Linked DNA regions of Homo sapiens: all the other regions are linked to region 3. The links come from fine-mapping of genetic effects on gene expression. A gene starts in region 3. Each other region holds a variant in brackets. All regions are shown on one strand. Distances are between the middles of the regions.

Evidence for each region. PIP is the estimated chance that this variant, and not a neighbour inherited with it, causes the effect. A credible set is the group of variants that fine-mapping cannot tell apart.
Region 1: its variant is the best candidate, but not a certain one, in a credible set for the expression of ERCC3 in NK cells (Schmiedel 2018, PIP 0.79).
Region 2: its variant is the best candidate, but not a certain one, in a credible set for the expression of ERCC3 in tibial nerve (GTEx, PIP 0.88).

Annotation. Positions count from the first base shown.
Region 1 is chr2:127,392,311-127,397,539 of GRCh38, reverse strand. All of the region lies in intron 3 of MAP3K2-DT (MAP3K2 divergent transcript), which reads right to left. Among named protein-coding and RNA genes, the nearest start is that of MAP3K2, 7.0 kb to the right of the region's middle. The variant G/AG (reference allele first, on the strand shown) is at 2,109.
Region 2 is chr2:127,326,952-127,332,180 of GRCh38, reverse strand. MAP3K2 (mitogen-activated protein kinase kinase kinase 2) reads left to right here. Exons shown (of 17, transcript NM_001371910.2): 6 at 1,676-1,789; 7 at 2,173-2,260. Among named protein-coding and RNA genes, the nearest start is that of ERCC3, 35 kb to the right of the region's middle. The variant T/C (reference allele first, on the strand shown) is at 2,659.
Region 3 is chr2:127,291,397-127,296,625 of GRCh38, reverse strand. ERCC3 (ERCC excision repair 3, TFIIH core complex helicase subunit) reads left to right here and starts at 2,482. Exons shown (of 15, transcript NM_000122.2): 1 at 2,482-2,572; 2 at 2,908-3,113; 3 at 3,780-4,016. The coding sequence starts at 2,545.

The DNA.
Region 1 (5,229 bases), 100 kb before region 3:
CTCCATTAAGTGTCCTTGGGGCCTGGTGACAGCCACCTGACCTTTCTCTGCCACTTTTTCCTTATATGTGAATTGAAAATTATGGGAAGACAATAAGATAATTAAACAGGAGAAAGGGAAGAAACAGACAATTCTCTTCTTGCTGTCAAGACAAAGACACTGGAAGTAAGGAGTGGACCATCAGACCATTAGGGGGATGCTGCAGTGGTGGAGAACATAAGTAGGCTCCCAGCAAATAGCCAACTTCCGAAAAATGGGTTATCCTTGTTAGCAATTTGGCATTTTTTTAAAAAAAATTTATCAATAAATAATAACTTTTATTTTGAGAAAGAGTCTCACTCTGGTGCCCGGACTGGAGTACAGTGGCACAATCACAGCTCACTGCAACCTCTGCCTCCCAGGCCCAGGCTTTTTTTTTTTTTTTTTTTTTTTTTTTTGTAGAGACAGGGTTTTACCATGTTGCCCAGGCTGGTCTCCAACTCTATAGCTCAAGCAATCCGCCTGCCTCGACCTCCCAAAGTACTGGAATTACAGGCATGAGCCACTGTGCCCAGACAATACATAATAATTGTACATATTTATCAGGTACATGTGATATTTTGATACATGCATACAATGTGCAATGACCAAATCAGGGTATTTAGGATATCTACCGCTTTGAACATTTATCATTTCTTTTTGTTAGAAACTTTCAGAACTTTTATTCTAACCATTTCAATATATATATTATTGTTAACTATAGTCACCCTACTGTGCTATCAAACACCAGAACTTACTCCTTCTATTTAATTGTATGTTTGTACCCATTAACCAACCTCTCTTTTTTCCCTCGTCCTCCTCACCGCTCACCCTTCCCAGCCTCTGGTAACTATCATTCTACTCTCTACCTCCATGAGATCAAATGTTTTATTAGCTCCACATATCAGTGAGAACATACAATATTTTTCCTTCTGTGCCTTGAGTATTTCACTTAACATAATGATCATCCGTGTTGCTACAAATAACAAGATTTCATTGTTTTCAATGGCTTCATAGTATTCCATTGTGTATATATACCACATTTTCTTTTCTTTTTTTTTTTTTGAGACGGAGTCTCGCTCTGTCGCCCAGGCTGGAGTCCAGTGGTGTGAACTTGGCTCACTGCAAGCTCTGCCTCCCGGGTTCACGCCATTCTCCTGCCTCAGCCTCCCGAGTAGCTGGGACTACAGGCACCCGCCACAATGCCTGGCTAATTTTTTTGTATTTTTAGTAGAGTCGGGGTTTCACCGTGTTAGCCAGGATGGTCTCGATCTCCTGACCTTGTGATCCGCCCACCTCAGCCTCCCAAAGTGCTTGGATTACAGGCGTGAGCCACCGCGCCCGGCCCACATTTTCTTTACTCATTCAACTCTTGATGAACACTTGGGTGATTCCATATCTTGGCTATTGTGAATAGTGCTGCAATAAACATGGGAATGCAGCTATCCCTTTGATATACTGATTTCCTTTATTTTGGATAAATACCCAGTAGTGAGATTGCTGGATCATATGGTAGTTCCATTTTGAGTCTTTTGAGAAATCTCCATACTGTTTTCCACAGTGGTTGTACTAATTTACATTCTACCAACAGTGTATAAGAGTTTCCTTTTCCGGCTGGGCGTGGTGGCTCACGCCTGTAATCCCAGCACTTTGGGAGGCTGAGGTGGGTGGATCACCAGGTCAGGAGATCGAGACCATCCTGGCCAACATGGTGAAACCCCGTCTCTACTAAAAGTACAAAAATTAGCTGGGCATGGTGGCACGTGCCTGTAATCCCAGCTACTCAGGAGGCTGAGGCAGGAGAATTTGCTTGAACCTGGGAGGCGGAGGTTGCAGTGAGCTGAGATTGTGCCATTGCACTCCAGCCTGGACAACAGAGCGAGACTTCAACTCAAAAAAAAAAAAAAAAAAAAGCCTACAAAAATTAGCCAGGGATGGTGGCACACACCTGTAATCCCAGCTACCTGGGAGGCTAAGGTGAGAGAATCACTTGAACCTGGGAGGTGAGGGTTGCAGTGAGCCGAGATGACACTACTGCACTCCAGCCTGGGTGACAAAGCGACACCCTGTCTCAAAAAAAAAAAAAAAAA[G/AG]AAAAAAGAAACTACTTATGCCATGTGAAGTGAAAACTGTAAGATACAAAATTGCATGTATAGGACAGATCACAACTATTAATACCTAAGAACGATTTAAAAACGTATCTAAAAATAAAAAAATACCAGCACAACAAAGATTTACGAATAGAGAAAAAATTGAATAGAAACAGAACTATAGAAGGAATGAGCTTTTTCTTTTCCTCCTGTTTTCCATATTTTCTATTATAAATATGTGTAACAATGGAAAATATATAACAAACATAATGTTAAAGTAAGAAGTTAATGTACTAGCAACTGATGGATAAAAGAATTAGAGCTGATCAAGATCACAGAGAATTCAAGACAACTGTCTGTTAGAAATCTTGTCACATTGCCTCTTTCCACACTTAGAAAACTTTGTGGGCATTCCACACAGCAGAAATCCCAGAAATAACTTTTGTTTGGCTGTGGCAGCACTGTGAACTTTTAAAAATCAGATTTACTAATGTTTTGCTTCTTGTAACAGTGAAGTGGCCCTGGGGATAATCATAATAGATTTGTGGAACATCATTTATATATGGGGTAGGCCCTACAGTCCACTCTGGTCCCCCAAGTCTTGCCTCTCCATGAGCTTCTCAGAGCCAACACAGTTGGCTGCTAGGCAACAACCATCCATCTCTCAGCTCCTTTGTAACCTAATCCGGCTTCTGCTTAGATATAGCCAGGCAGTGTGCCCAGCCCCCGGTGGTCCTCGTGTGGGCTGAACCCATCATGGTGATCCTGACTTCTATGCATGCATAACCATGTGACCCAACTCCAGCCAACAAGATACTATTAGCAGTCAGTTCAGCTACCAGGGACAGTCATTTACATCTCCCATGAGAAACTACACAGCCCTGTGGTCCAGATTAGGGAGGGGATTCTGCTCCCAGAGCCACCATTCCTGTGTATGCCCCATGTCCTGACTCTCCAAGATGGCCTGCAAGTACTCCAGTGTGGGAGGAAGGGACGAGGAAAGATGTAAAAGCAGTAGTCTCTTAAGAAAGGGACTCTCAGTGAAGGTCCCTGGATGGACACACTTCAGTTGACTTCCCTTTTGCCATTACTTAGTCACCTGGTCACATTTAGCTGCAAGGGAGGCTAGGGAATGAACTCTTTATTATGAGAGTCCTATATGCTCAGATAAAATTTGATTACAATGGGAAGAGGAGAATGAATTTGGGGGCACAATTAGCAGACATTGCTGCAAAAACAAAATGGGTAGTCTTCTGGGAGGCTGATGGGAAACACTATTTTTTTTTTTTTGAGACAGAGTTTCACTCTTGTTGCCCAGGCTAGAGTGCAATGGCATGATCTCAGCTCACTGCAACCTCCGCCTCCCAGGTTCAAGCAATTCTCCTACCTCAGCCTCCTGAGTAGCTGGGATTACAGGCATATGCCACCATGCCCAGCCAATTTTTTGCATTTTTAGTAGAGATGGGGTTTCTCCATATTGGTCAGGCTGGTCTTGAACTCCTGACCTCAGGTGATCCACCTGCCTCGGCCTCCCAAAGTGCTGGGATTACAGGTGTGAGCCACTGCGCCTGGCCCTGGAAATACTATCCTTAATGAAAAGAGAATCCTTAGCACACCTAGCACCAGATATTGGTCTCTAACACCATTCTCCAACAAAAGAAACCAGGGCCCTTTGGAAAAATGGCTGATTCTAGACTGGGACAGGAAATATTCAAGATGATTTTGGAGCGCTGGCAGTGCCAGAAAGCAAAGAAGTGCTGAAAAAGGAAAAAAAAAATCATAATGATGGGTGTCAAAGGGACACAGGAGACAAATCAAAGAGCTACCAATGGCCAAACCCAGAATAATTAGAGCAACAAAATAAGTAATGTAGTATTAGATTATAACCCAGAGCATAAGTTATATACCCACAATTCTATATTAATATAAATAAAAGATTACATAAGTAAACAGGAGAGAAGAGACAGATCTCACATGCAGAAGAATTCCTAGTAATTTATGCAGATACTTCACACACAAGGAGGTGGAGCATAGCTCCCCACTCCTTAGGTGTGGGCTGAGCATAGTGACTTCCTTGCAAAGAGTATAGTATGGAAAGAGGTGAATAAAGAGTAGCTTTATGGGGGAGAAACCTGACAAACACTATCTCAGGCAGGTGATCAAGCTCAACACCAAGTCATAAATCATACTGACAGTATATACCTGCTATGGTTTGAATATGTCCCCCAAAGGTCATGTTTTGGAAACTTGATCCCCAATGCAACAATGTTAGGAGGTAGGACCTTTAAGAGGTGTTTAAGTTATGATTAAGTTATGAGGGGAGAGCCGTCATGAATGGATTAATGTCATTATCTAGGGTGGGCACCTTATAAAAGGATGAGTTTGACTCTTCTTGCTCTTTCTCTCATCTTCTCTTTGCCCTTCCCCCACAGGATGACACAGCAAGAAGGTTCTTGCCAGATGTGGGCCCCTCAATCTTGGACTTCCCAGCCTTCAGAACTGTGAGAGATAAATTTCTGTTCATTACACATTACCCAGTCTGTGGTATTTTGTTACAGGGCACAAAATGGACTAAGACAATGGACTACCTTTGATAGGATGTGATAAAGATGGCACTTTACTTCAGTGGTCTCCTTCCCCAGAACCCATAACCTCAGTGTCATCATGAGAAAAACATTACATGATTCACAATTGAAGAATATTCTACCAAACACCTAACCAGTATTCCTTAGCACAAGGCCATCAAAAACAAGGGAACTCACAGCCAAGAGAAGCCTAAGGAGACGTGATGACTAAGCATAGTGTGGGCTCCTGGAACACAAAAAGGGCATTAGGAAAAAACTGAGGACATCTGAATAAAGTATGGACTTCAGTTAATGACAATGCATCAATATTGGTTCACTAGTTATGACAAATGTACTATACTAATAATACAAGTTCGTAATAATAGGTGTATTAGTCTGTTCTCACATTGCTATAAAGAACTACCTAAGACTGGGTAATTTAAGAGGAAAAGAGGTTTAATTGACTCACAGTTACACAGGCTGTACAGAAAGCAAGGCTGGGAGGCCTCAGGAAACTTCAATCATGATGGAAAGTGAGGGGGAAGCAGGCACATCTTACC
Region 2 (5,229 bases), 36 kb before region 3:
GGAAATAGAAATGTGTTTAAGTAGATCAGTAGATCAGGCTTGTTCTATGATACCAAACAGTTAATAATTGTATTTTATTAGAAAAAAATTCTCATAGAGCGAAAAGAGCCCAGTTAGTCGGTCCCTTACAGTAATACAAAATTAGCTACAAACAGAAATTGGGAATATATTTTAACAACAGAGTAAGTAAATGCAAGCAGATTGTCTGATGGAATTCACATAAATCCTTCTTTATATTCGTGTTTGGCAGCCTTTCTTATAACAAGGACTTTTTTGGCTGGGCATGGTGGCTCACGCCTGTAATCCCAGCACTTTGGAAGGCCCAGGCGGGCAGATAATTTGAGGTCAGGAGTTTGAGACCAGCCTGGTCAACATGTTGAAACCCTGTCTCTGCTAAAAATACAAAAATTAGCCACGCGTGGTGGTGCATGCCTGTAAACCCAGCTACTGGGGAGGCTGAGGCAGGAGAATCACTTGAAACCAGGAGGCAGATTGCAGTGAGCTGAGATTGCCACTGTACTCCAGCCTGAATGACAGTGAGACTCCATTTCAAAACAAAAAATCAAAAACCCCAAGGACTTTTTTCACAAAGAAGTCTGCAGAATGAACATACACCATGCCAGCTAGTGGGTTTGGGTTCAGATTGAGCTTTTAACACTGTGAGATTTATTAGACAGCATTTACCAGGTTGTCTGCTCTTTGCTCATTGCTGGTGTAGGGGGTCCTTGTCTTCAAAGAATTTATACTGTAGAGACCCCAAATTAATTCAGCCTTGCATTTTAATGGCTCATATATTGTGCTGAGTAGAGCAGGTTAACTAGTGCAGAATATGTTCACTTGTTTTTATTCTGTTCCTCCTTCAATGAAATGGAATATACTTTGAAGTTATTGACAGAGTCTTCTTAAGTTACTAAATTGACTTTTTTTTTAAAAAAAGGACATATTTTTATTTCTTAAATTGTATGAATTACACTTTTTCTCATAGACCTCTTAGGTGCTTTTGTCCTCTATAACATCTGCTGCATGAGAAGACTAGTGAAAGCAGATTCCACATGCAGGGTTTACTATGGAATAGTTAACTCATTAGCTTATTTGTTTTAGGGTATAGTGGTCAGGTCACTAGGCTCAGAGAGAAGAACTCTAGGTGGGCTGTAGATTGCAGATATGTTACTAGTGGTACCCCTCCATGGCAGCTGTCCTCCATGGCAGGTGCTCAGGATGTTGGTATGTTGAAGAGCACACCAGCTGAGAGTGCAAATTTGTGGTTACTATTGAAAAAAGAACTGAGTTTCATCTATACAGAAGAAAAGTAGTACCTTTATTTCATATGGTCTTTGTCTGTACTTCTTCATTCTTTTTAGGGGCGAACATACTATAACTTAAATTTAGCAATATTATGGAAATATCCTAGAAAATTAATCTTTAAATGTTATTTTCTAGAAGAATGTAATGATTAATAAAGAAAAATTTAAAAACATACATGTTCATTCTAAGATTTTAGTGGCGGTAGAATGAGGAGGGCAAAACAATATACACATACACATTCAGACTTTCATCATAGTAACAAATCAAAGAGCAAGGTATTTTGACATTTGTAATTCCTTAGTAGTGGAGATGCTCATGGAAGAACTTGACCTGGTGAGATAGCTGCATGGTTCCTTATGTTTGTTTTTAGTTGGTAATTCCATTAACTACTCAAGATGACTTGGACAAAGCTGTGGAACTGCTGGATCGTAGTATTCATATGAAGAGCCTCAAGATATTACTTGTAATAAATGGAAGTACACAGGTATGATTTGGGATATTTTTTTCAGTAAGAATTATAGGACTTAGGCTTGTAAAAGTTAACATATGAAACATAATTATATTCTATAATCATTGCAATATTTTCATTATGATTAAATGTAAACTTACATCCTTTAATTACTATACTTTAATATCCTTACTCCTCAAAAACCACAGTCATAGTTATAAATAAGTATAATATGTTGTACATACGAAGCTAATAGAAACTGACAACTTAGAATTATGTTAGAATTAAAATTTCAAAGAGTAGAGGATTTGATTAAGGCTCACAAACAATATAAAATGTTTTGTACTTGGTAGGGGAGAGGATTCTGTTTAAAGCCCCAAGGAGGAAGAATAGCATTAACTGTCTTTTCTCCTTTGTAGGCTACTAATTTAGAACCATTGCCATCACTAGAAGATTTGGATAATACAGTATTTGGAGCAGAGAGGAAAAAACGGCTATCTATAATAGGTAAGAAACTAGTGTCTGAATTATGAAATGAATGATTTCTCAATTTCTTCTCCATCCTTTAATGTAGTGTGGCACCTAAACATATTCCTGATAAATAATATTTTATTTCTCTACTTCCTATAATTTAATTTAAATACACTCTAATATTTGACGTCCCTTGGAAATTCAAGTTTACAGGATTAGTAATCTCCAATTTAAATTCTTTATTTATATACTCAGGGTATTTTAATGTTAACAAATTCAAATAAAACTTTAAAGAGGTTTTAGGCTGGGCGCGGTAGCTCATGCCTGTAATCCCAGCACTTTGGGAGGCCAAGGCGGGCAGATCACAAGGTCAAGAGATCGAGACCATCCTAGCCAACATGGTGAAACCCCATCTCTACTAAAATTACAAAAAT[T/C]AGCTGGGCGTGGTGGTGCATGCCTGTAGTCCCAGCTACTCAGGAGGCTGAGGCAAGAGGATTGCTTGAACCCGGGAGGCGGAGGTTGCAGTGAGCCGAGATTGTGCCACTGCACTCCAGCCTGGCGACAAAGCAAGACTCCATCTCAAAAAAAAAGGTTTTAATTGTACAAATAGAATGGAGGAAAAAAATTAAAAGAAGTAATTATAATGTATTAAAATTAATAGAGTGTAAATTCACAAGCCTTTCTCTAGGGTTTTAGTGATTGCCAAGAATGCTCTCAAAATAAAGATACTAAGAATTTTTATATTATGCTTTATTATTACTTTATTAGTATTCATTTTCATTTGCCATTAATTTATTGTTATAATTAAGATTATGATATAAAGAAATAAAGATCTTGCATGCTGTAGTTTAAGGAGGCTTTATTCGTGCAACATGAGTTTGACACAGGTACTCTCAACTCCCCATTCTGTCTGTTCTTCAATTTGTATAAAACATTGATAATCTACATTTTTATTTGATAAAAGCATTAACATTGTTTCAAAAAACCGCTGGTATAAATGTTCTTTGAGAGAGGGCAGTGAGTATGGCCATTAAAGATGGCATGAAAACATGTATGAGGGGCGGATTTAAAAGAGAAAAGTTAAAGAGGAGGAAAAACAAATGTGGTTGGGAATCTAAAAAAGATTGGTAACAGAAGAGGATTGTTGATAATCAAAGAAAAAATTGAATTGGCATGTGGACCATCAAAAAAATAGACATTATTCATGTTCTCTTTTGGTCCCCAGAAGAAGCTATTTTATGACCATTCTCTTCGAAGTGTCTGTCTTAAATAAGTCCTACTTTGGGTTTCAGGAATGCAGAAATGCGAGCAGCAGAGGTGATACACAAGCAAAATACAAATGGCTTGTCTTTTGCATTCAGATATATTTCGATATAGTTTTAAAATTTGGTGAAAGAACATTTGAAACACCCAAATTCAAATTCCAGCTCTCTGATGAACCTGAGACCAGTAAATGTGTCTTCATCTTTAAATCATGGGATTGTTGTAGCATTAAATTGAGAGAACACTTGTACATTTTACTTTTCAAACTAGAAAGCTTATTGTACATTTATACATTTTGTACATTGTACAAAGCTCAGATGTTCATTGTACATTTCTTTCTTTATCCCCATTTCTTATCACATTACGGTACTTGTCATTTTTTAAAAAATTGCTAATTCACTTTATTTTATTTATTTTTTGAGACAGAGTCTCACTCCGTCACCCAGGCTGGAGTACAGTGGCGCGGTCTCAGCTAACTGTAACCGCTGCCTCCTGGGTTCAAGTGATTCTCCTGCCTCAGCCTCCTGAATAACTGAGATTACAGGCGCCCGCCACCATGCCTGGCTAATTTTTATATTTTTAGTAGAGATGGGGTTTCAGCCTGTTAGCCAGATTGGTCTCGAACTCCTGACCTCATGTGATCCACCCACCTTGGCCTCCCAGAGTGCTGGGATTACAGGCGTGAGCCACAGTGCCCAGCTCTAATTCACTTTAGTTGCATTAGACAAAACAAGCTAAATGTACTAGTTAAATTGACATTTTAAATATATTTTGAATTAAAATTACACTGAATACCTCAGTCTTATTCTAATAAATATTCTTGTTTGACGTCAGTGCCAGCATAAGAAGAAATTGGAAATCATAAAGTATAGAATTAGTGGTCTTTTATTGGCACTGCTTTAAACTTGGAATGGCTTTGCTAGATATGACCATTATCTATTTTTCTTATATGTTGGCAGTTATTCTTTTTAATTGTTTTTATAAAAGGGAGATGGAGGAAAAACTCCTTTAGGTTAGGAGTGTATGCTGATAAACAGGTCTCAACCAAGAGTGCGTTGGCATACGCATTACTGTGAAAAAGGGTTGTCAAATAAGGAGACAAAATTTTCATAGCTTTTTTTTTTTTTTGGTCCTATCTCCTTTTAGTAATTGACTATATTGATCTTTTGTAAGCACGGGTATATGGAAGGAATAAAAATATTAGGGACCAGTATTATTGTGGCTACAGTTGTTATGAAGCCTAAATCAATCCTGACTCAAATTGAGCTCCTAATCATTTTACAGACAAGTGTAGACAGTACTCTCTTTTATGCACATGTCTTGGTAATAATTTTGCTTTCTTTTTCCTCCCTGTCTCACTAACAAATGCTTGCATATACTCACAATGACTCCTTTACATAAGGCTAAAATGTTTTTTGCTTTAAATTGGACCAGAACTTAAATGCTCACATAGTTTAATTTCAAAAAACTATGAGGAAAGGTGAGACACTGTACTAATAAATATAGCATCATTTCCACAGAACCAAGTAAAATAGAGTGGGTTATTGTCTCATAAGAAATGTGATTACTTAAATAAACTGTCTTAATGCCAGAAATCTATATTGTATTATCATCCTATCAGCAGTCAGAATACCATCCTACCTAGTGAGTATAAATGAATATTATGGTGAGGTTAATAATTATGATAGGGTGGGAATTTACAAAGGTTATAAAGCCATTTGAAGATTTACAAATGAATGTTC
Region 3 (5,229 bases):
TATCATCTAAATATCAGTTCAAATCTCATCACCCAAATCATCCACATCAATTGACTCTGGGTTAGGTTTCCTGTTGGAGCAAATTTTCTTTCTATCTATGAACCCATGAGAACAGACAAGTTATCTGCTTCCAATTACAATGGTATAGGCAGAGGATAGACACATTCCATTCCAAAAGGGAGAAATGGGAAGGAAAAAGACTTGGAGGTGCCAAGAAAGTCTGACACCTAACAGGGCCAATGACAGGATTTTAAGGCTTGAGAATAATCCTCACTGGCTTGATCCTCTGTCCTCAGGGCCCACTGGGGTTGCAGCCCCGCACCCTCAGAACTGAGGAGGTGGTGGCCGTGGGTTCAAACCCAAGCCTGTCCCTTTCAGTCCTGTGGTGGCGGAAGCAGCCTCACTGGCCTCTGAACTGCCCCTGCCAATCCCTTTCCTACCTGTGGAATCCTGGGAGTCCAACAGCCTTCCTTCATTTCATCCCATCTATGTACCCTAGTCAAAACTGTCCAGGTTTCTGTGGAGATGGGTGATTGGGTCTATAAGCCACACACCTAATCTCTTGCAAATAAATGGTTGTCCACATCCTTAGTGTTTCTCCAGAGCATACTTTCTCTCTCTCTTTTTTTTTTTTTTTTTTTTTTTTTTTTTTTTTTTTACAATGTGAGTATAAGAATGATCCAAATCTTCAAGTTCTGGTTCCTTTTTGTTGAATAATTCCACCTTCAGTGTATCTCTTCTCACATTTCACTATAAGCAATAAGGAGAAAGCAGGCCTCAGTTTTTTTTTTTTTTTTTTTTGAGACGGAGTCTTGCTCTGTTGCCCAGGCTGGAGTGCAGTGGCGTGATCTCTGCTCACTGCAACTTCTGCCTCCTGAGTTCAAGAGATCCTCCTGCCTCAGCCTCCTGAGCAGCTGAGACTACAGGCGCGCGACACCACGCCCAGCTAATTTTTGTATTTTTAGTAGAGACGGGGATTCACCATATTGGCCAGGCTGGTATTGAACTCCTGACCTTATGATCCCCTGCCTCGGCCTCCCAAAGTGCTGGGATTACAGGCGTGAGCCACCGCGCCTGGCCCAGGCCTCACTTTGAACCATCATGTAGAAATTTCCTCAGCAAAATGTCCAAGCTTATCACTTATAAGTTCTACTTTCCACCCAACAGAATACAATTCAGGCAAGCTCTCTACCACTTGCCTCCAGTTTCAATAACATATTTCTCCTTTCCATCTGAGCCGTCACCAGAATCACCTTTAATGCCCATACTTCTACCAAGGCTCTTCAAGACAATAGAGGCTTTTCTATCATGCGCCTCAAAATTCTTTCAGCCTCTACCGATTACCCAATTTGAAAACCACTTCCCCATTGTTAGGTATTTGTTACAGCAGTACCCTATTCCCCGTACCAAAAATCTGTGTTACGTTCTCCAGAGAAACAGAACCAAGAGGCCCACTGAGCAAGCGAGATTGATTGATTGATTTTAAAGAATTGGCTCATGCAATTGTGGGGGTTGGCAAGTTGGGAATTCAGGTACGAGTTGATGTTGTAGTTTTGAGTCCAAAGGCTGGAAACTCAGTCAGAACTTTCTGTGTTGCAGTCTGGAGGCAGAATTCCTTTTTCCTTGAGAAACCTGTCTTTGCTCTTAAGGCCTTCAACTGATTTGGATGAGGCCCACCCGCATTATTGAGGGTAATCTGCTTTATTTAGGCTGAGACATGAGAATGGCATGAACCCGGGAGGCGGAGCTTGCAGTGAGCTGAAATCGCGCCACTGCATTCCAGCCTGGGCGACAGGGCGAGACTCCGTCTCAAAAAAAAAAAAAAAAAAAAGAAAAAAATTTTTTTTGAGACGAACTCTCGGCCTGTCGCCCAGGCTGTAGTGCAGTGGTGCAATCTCAGCTCAGTGCAGCCTTTACCTTCTGGGTTCAAGAGATTCTCCCATCTCAGCCTCCCAAGTAGCTTAGACTACAGGCGTGTGCCACCATGCCTGGCTACTTTTTTTTGTATTTTTCGCAGAGATGGGGTTTCACCATGTTGGCCAGGCTGGCCTCGAACTCCTGACCTCAAGTGATCCACCCACCTCAGCCTCCCAAAGTGCTGGAATTACAGGCGTGAGCCACCGTGCTCAGCCAAATTTTTTTTAATTAAAAAAAAGAATTCTTCCTTACCCATGGACTCAGGTCACATTCTCTCTCTCTCTCTCTCACACACACATTTATTGCCCACATGGCTTCATTAAAATTTAAGTTCCAGAAGGATGAGGCCTTTAATTCGCGCACTACACAGGTGCTCAACACACAGTATTTTCCTTCAGTTGTAGAGAAATGAACAGTGGAGGACCCCCGCCGCTGGGTCGCACGAGCTAACAGATCGGCGGTCGCTGGCTCTCCGCTCTTCCAGCCACCCACATCACGGCGCCTAGAGGCGGGACATCCTGTGTGGACAACAGGGAGCTTCCGGATTGAGCCGGAAGTCCCCCCAGAGCGGATGCCGCGGCGGGCCTGTGGGAGCGGGGTCATCTTCTCTCTGCTGCTGTAGCTGCCATGGGCAAAAGAGACCGAGCGGACCGCGGTGAGACGTTGCGCGGGCACGCTCAGCCACGACTGCCCTTGCCGGCCCTGCCCCCCGCTCTGCCTCGGAGCTGCTCCGGGCCTCTGCGCCGGCCGACCCTGCTGGCCCTCCCGCGCGCACCCCGTTGGGACAGGCCTTTGGGCGGGAGAGATGCTGGACCTGGGCGCAGCCCAGCGAACTCGGCCTAGGGGAGACGGGTGAGGGGCGCAACGCCTGCGGGATGCAGGTGGCTCTTAGCTAGGAGTTTGCGGCGGCGCAGGTGAAATGCTGCCAAGCGGTGCGGAGGGAACCCTGAAGGCTCCTGCTGGGCTTACTTCTGTGTTGGTATCTTGCAGACAAGAAGAAATCCAGGAAGCGGCACTATGAGGATGAAGAGGATGATGAAGAGGACGCCCCGGGGAACGACCCTCAGGAAGCGGTTCCCTCGGCGGCGGGGAAGCAGGTGGATGAGTCAGGCACCAAAGTGGATGAATATGGAGCCAAGGACTACAGGCTGCAAATGCCGCTGAAGGACGACCACACCTCCAGGCCCCTCTGGGTGGTAAGCATGCCCTTAGCTTGGGCAGGGCCCAGGAGTGTGCGGAGCGGCAGCTAAATCTTGGGCATCCTCAGAGTCAAAACTGACATTCAGGATACTGCCCCTAGAACTGGCCGGGAGAGAATTTTCATCCACACACGTTGGAACAGCCCAAGGCAACAGCGAGCAGTTGCGCACACGTGTGGCGGCCGGACCTGGGCTTCCAACAGCTCTAACCCCTCGGTTTACTCTCACTCCTTCCCCAGCCCTACCCCATGTAGTGAATCCTTTTATCTGCCGAATAAATAGCATTTATCATGTAACAGTTTGTTTCCTCAAATAATGGAAGACATGTTCGGTAGCAAGCTTTTGCTCTACTTTAAATAATTAATGTTATACATTTAGTTGAAATCTAGCCAAAAGGTAACTTGAGGATAGCCAGTAAGATGGGCTTTCTCTGTGCAGAATAGTAGGAAACAGCTGTTGACTTTGGAAACACTTTCTTCTATTTTTCTTTACTCTTCTGTATCTGATTAATGTAACAGGCCCCACAGTTGTCTGAAGGAGTGCTTGCAAGAATATCTGTGGTGTTGGGCAGCTTATTCTTTCTTGATAATGATATGGGCAAGAGCCCAGTAGTCTCTGCAACTCATGTTTCCTTGTCTGTTTTGTCCATTTGGTATCTCTCAGGCTCCCGATGGCCATATCTTCTTGGAAGCCTTCTCTCCAGTTTACAAATATGCCCAAGACTTCTTGGTGGCTATTGCAGAGCCAGTGTGCCGACCAACCCATGTGCATGAGTACAAACTAACTGCCTACTCCTTGTATGCAGCTGTCAGCGTTGGGCTGCAAACCAGTGACATCACCGAGTACCTCAGGAAGCTCAGCAAGACTGGAGTCCCTGATGGAATTATGCAGTTTATTAAGGCAAGTGACAGCTGAGACCAGCAATTCCACCTGCCCTGCTAATGTAACAATAGGCATAGGTGCTCCATGTTGTCAGCCTGTGGCAGCCATGAGAATGTGCCATTCAGATTTCCTGTGGGGAGCATAACGACTGATTACCCCAGCCGCTACACTCTGGATCCAGCATTGTGTTCTGGGTGAGGCCATGCTTCTCATGAGCCGCTACACTCTGGATCCAGCATTGTGTTCTGGGTGAGGCCACGCTTCTCATGAGCCGCTCCCAGCTGTGGGTATTAACACAGAGGGGCTACTAATTCAGGCCCATTGTAGCCAGGGAGAATTTGGAAATGCAGCCCAAAGTGAGTGTGCTGGGGACTGAATTGTGTGTGTTCCCCTCAAATTTTGTCTTCAAAACCTAATATCCAATGGTAATGTATTTGGAGTAAGAAAGTAGTTAAGACTAAATGAGGTCGTGATCCGCTATGATTAGTGTCCTCCTAAGAAGAGACACCGGAGCATGCTTTCTCTCACCTGCCCTTCTTGTCATGTGAGTACACAATGGGAAGGTGGTCCATAGACAAGAGCCTTCACCAGAAACTGAATCGGCTGATACCTTGATCATAGACTTTCAGCCTCCACAGCTCTGAGAAAATACAGTTCTAATGTTGAAGCCACCCAGTCTGGAATTTTATTATGGCAGCCCAAGCTGACTAACACAGGTGGTAAACTCTGTCTAAAGCTAAGTATCTGCAGGAGACCAATAGTCAACAAGTTCCATGAGGGAAAGTCAAAAACAACTTCAGATGTTTTTGACAAAACAAAGAGGGTTCCATGTGATTAATAGTTGAACATGCTAGGTTTCTTCTGCGAGATGGGTGAATGCCATTTAAAAGAGATGGACAGTGGCTTTCATTGCCTTTGGCTGATCCAAAAGGAGTCAGATTCAGACCTTGGGATCTGGAGTGGCAGAAGAGTGCCACAGGAATTCAGTATGGTACTGCAGCCAGTCCCAGAGAAGCTGCAGGAGTCCTGGAGAGAACTCTCTTTTCCTGTGATGTGAAAGCGTGCCCGGCCAGGTGCAGTGGCTCACTCCTGTAATCCCAGCACTTTGGGTGGCTGAGGTGGGTGGACCACCTGGGGTCAGGAGTTCAAGACCAGCCTGGCCAACATGGCGAAATTCCTGTCTCTACTAAAAATACAAAAATTCGCCAGGCATGGTGGTGGGTGCCTGTAA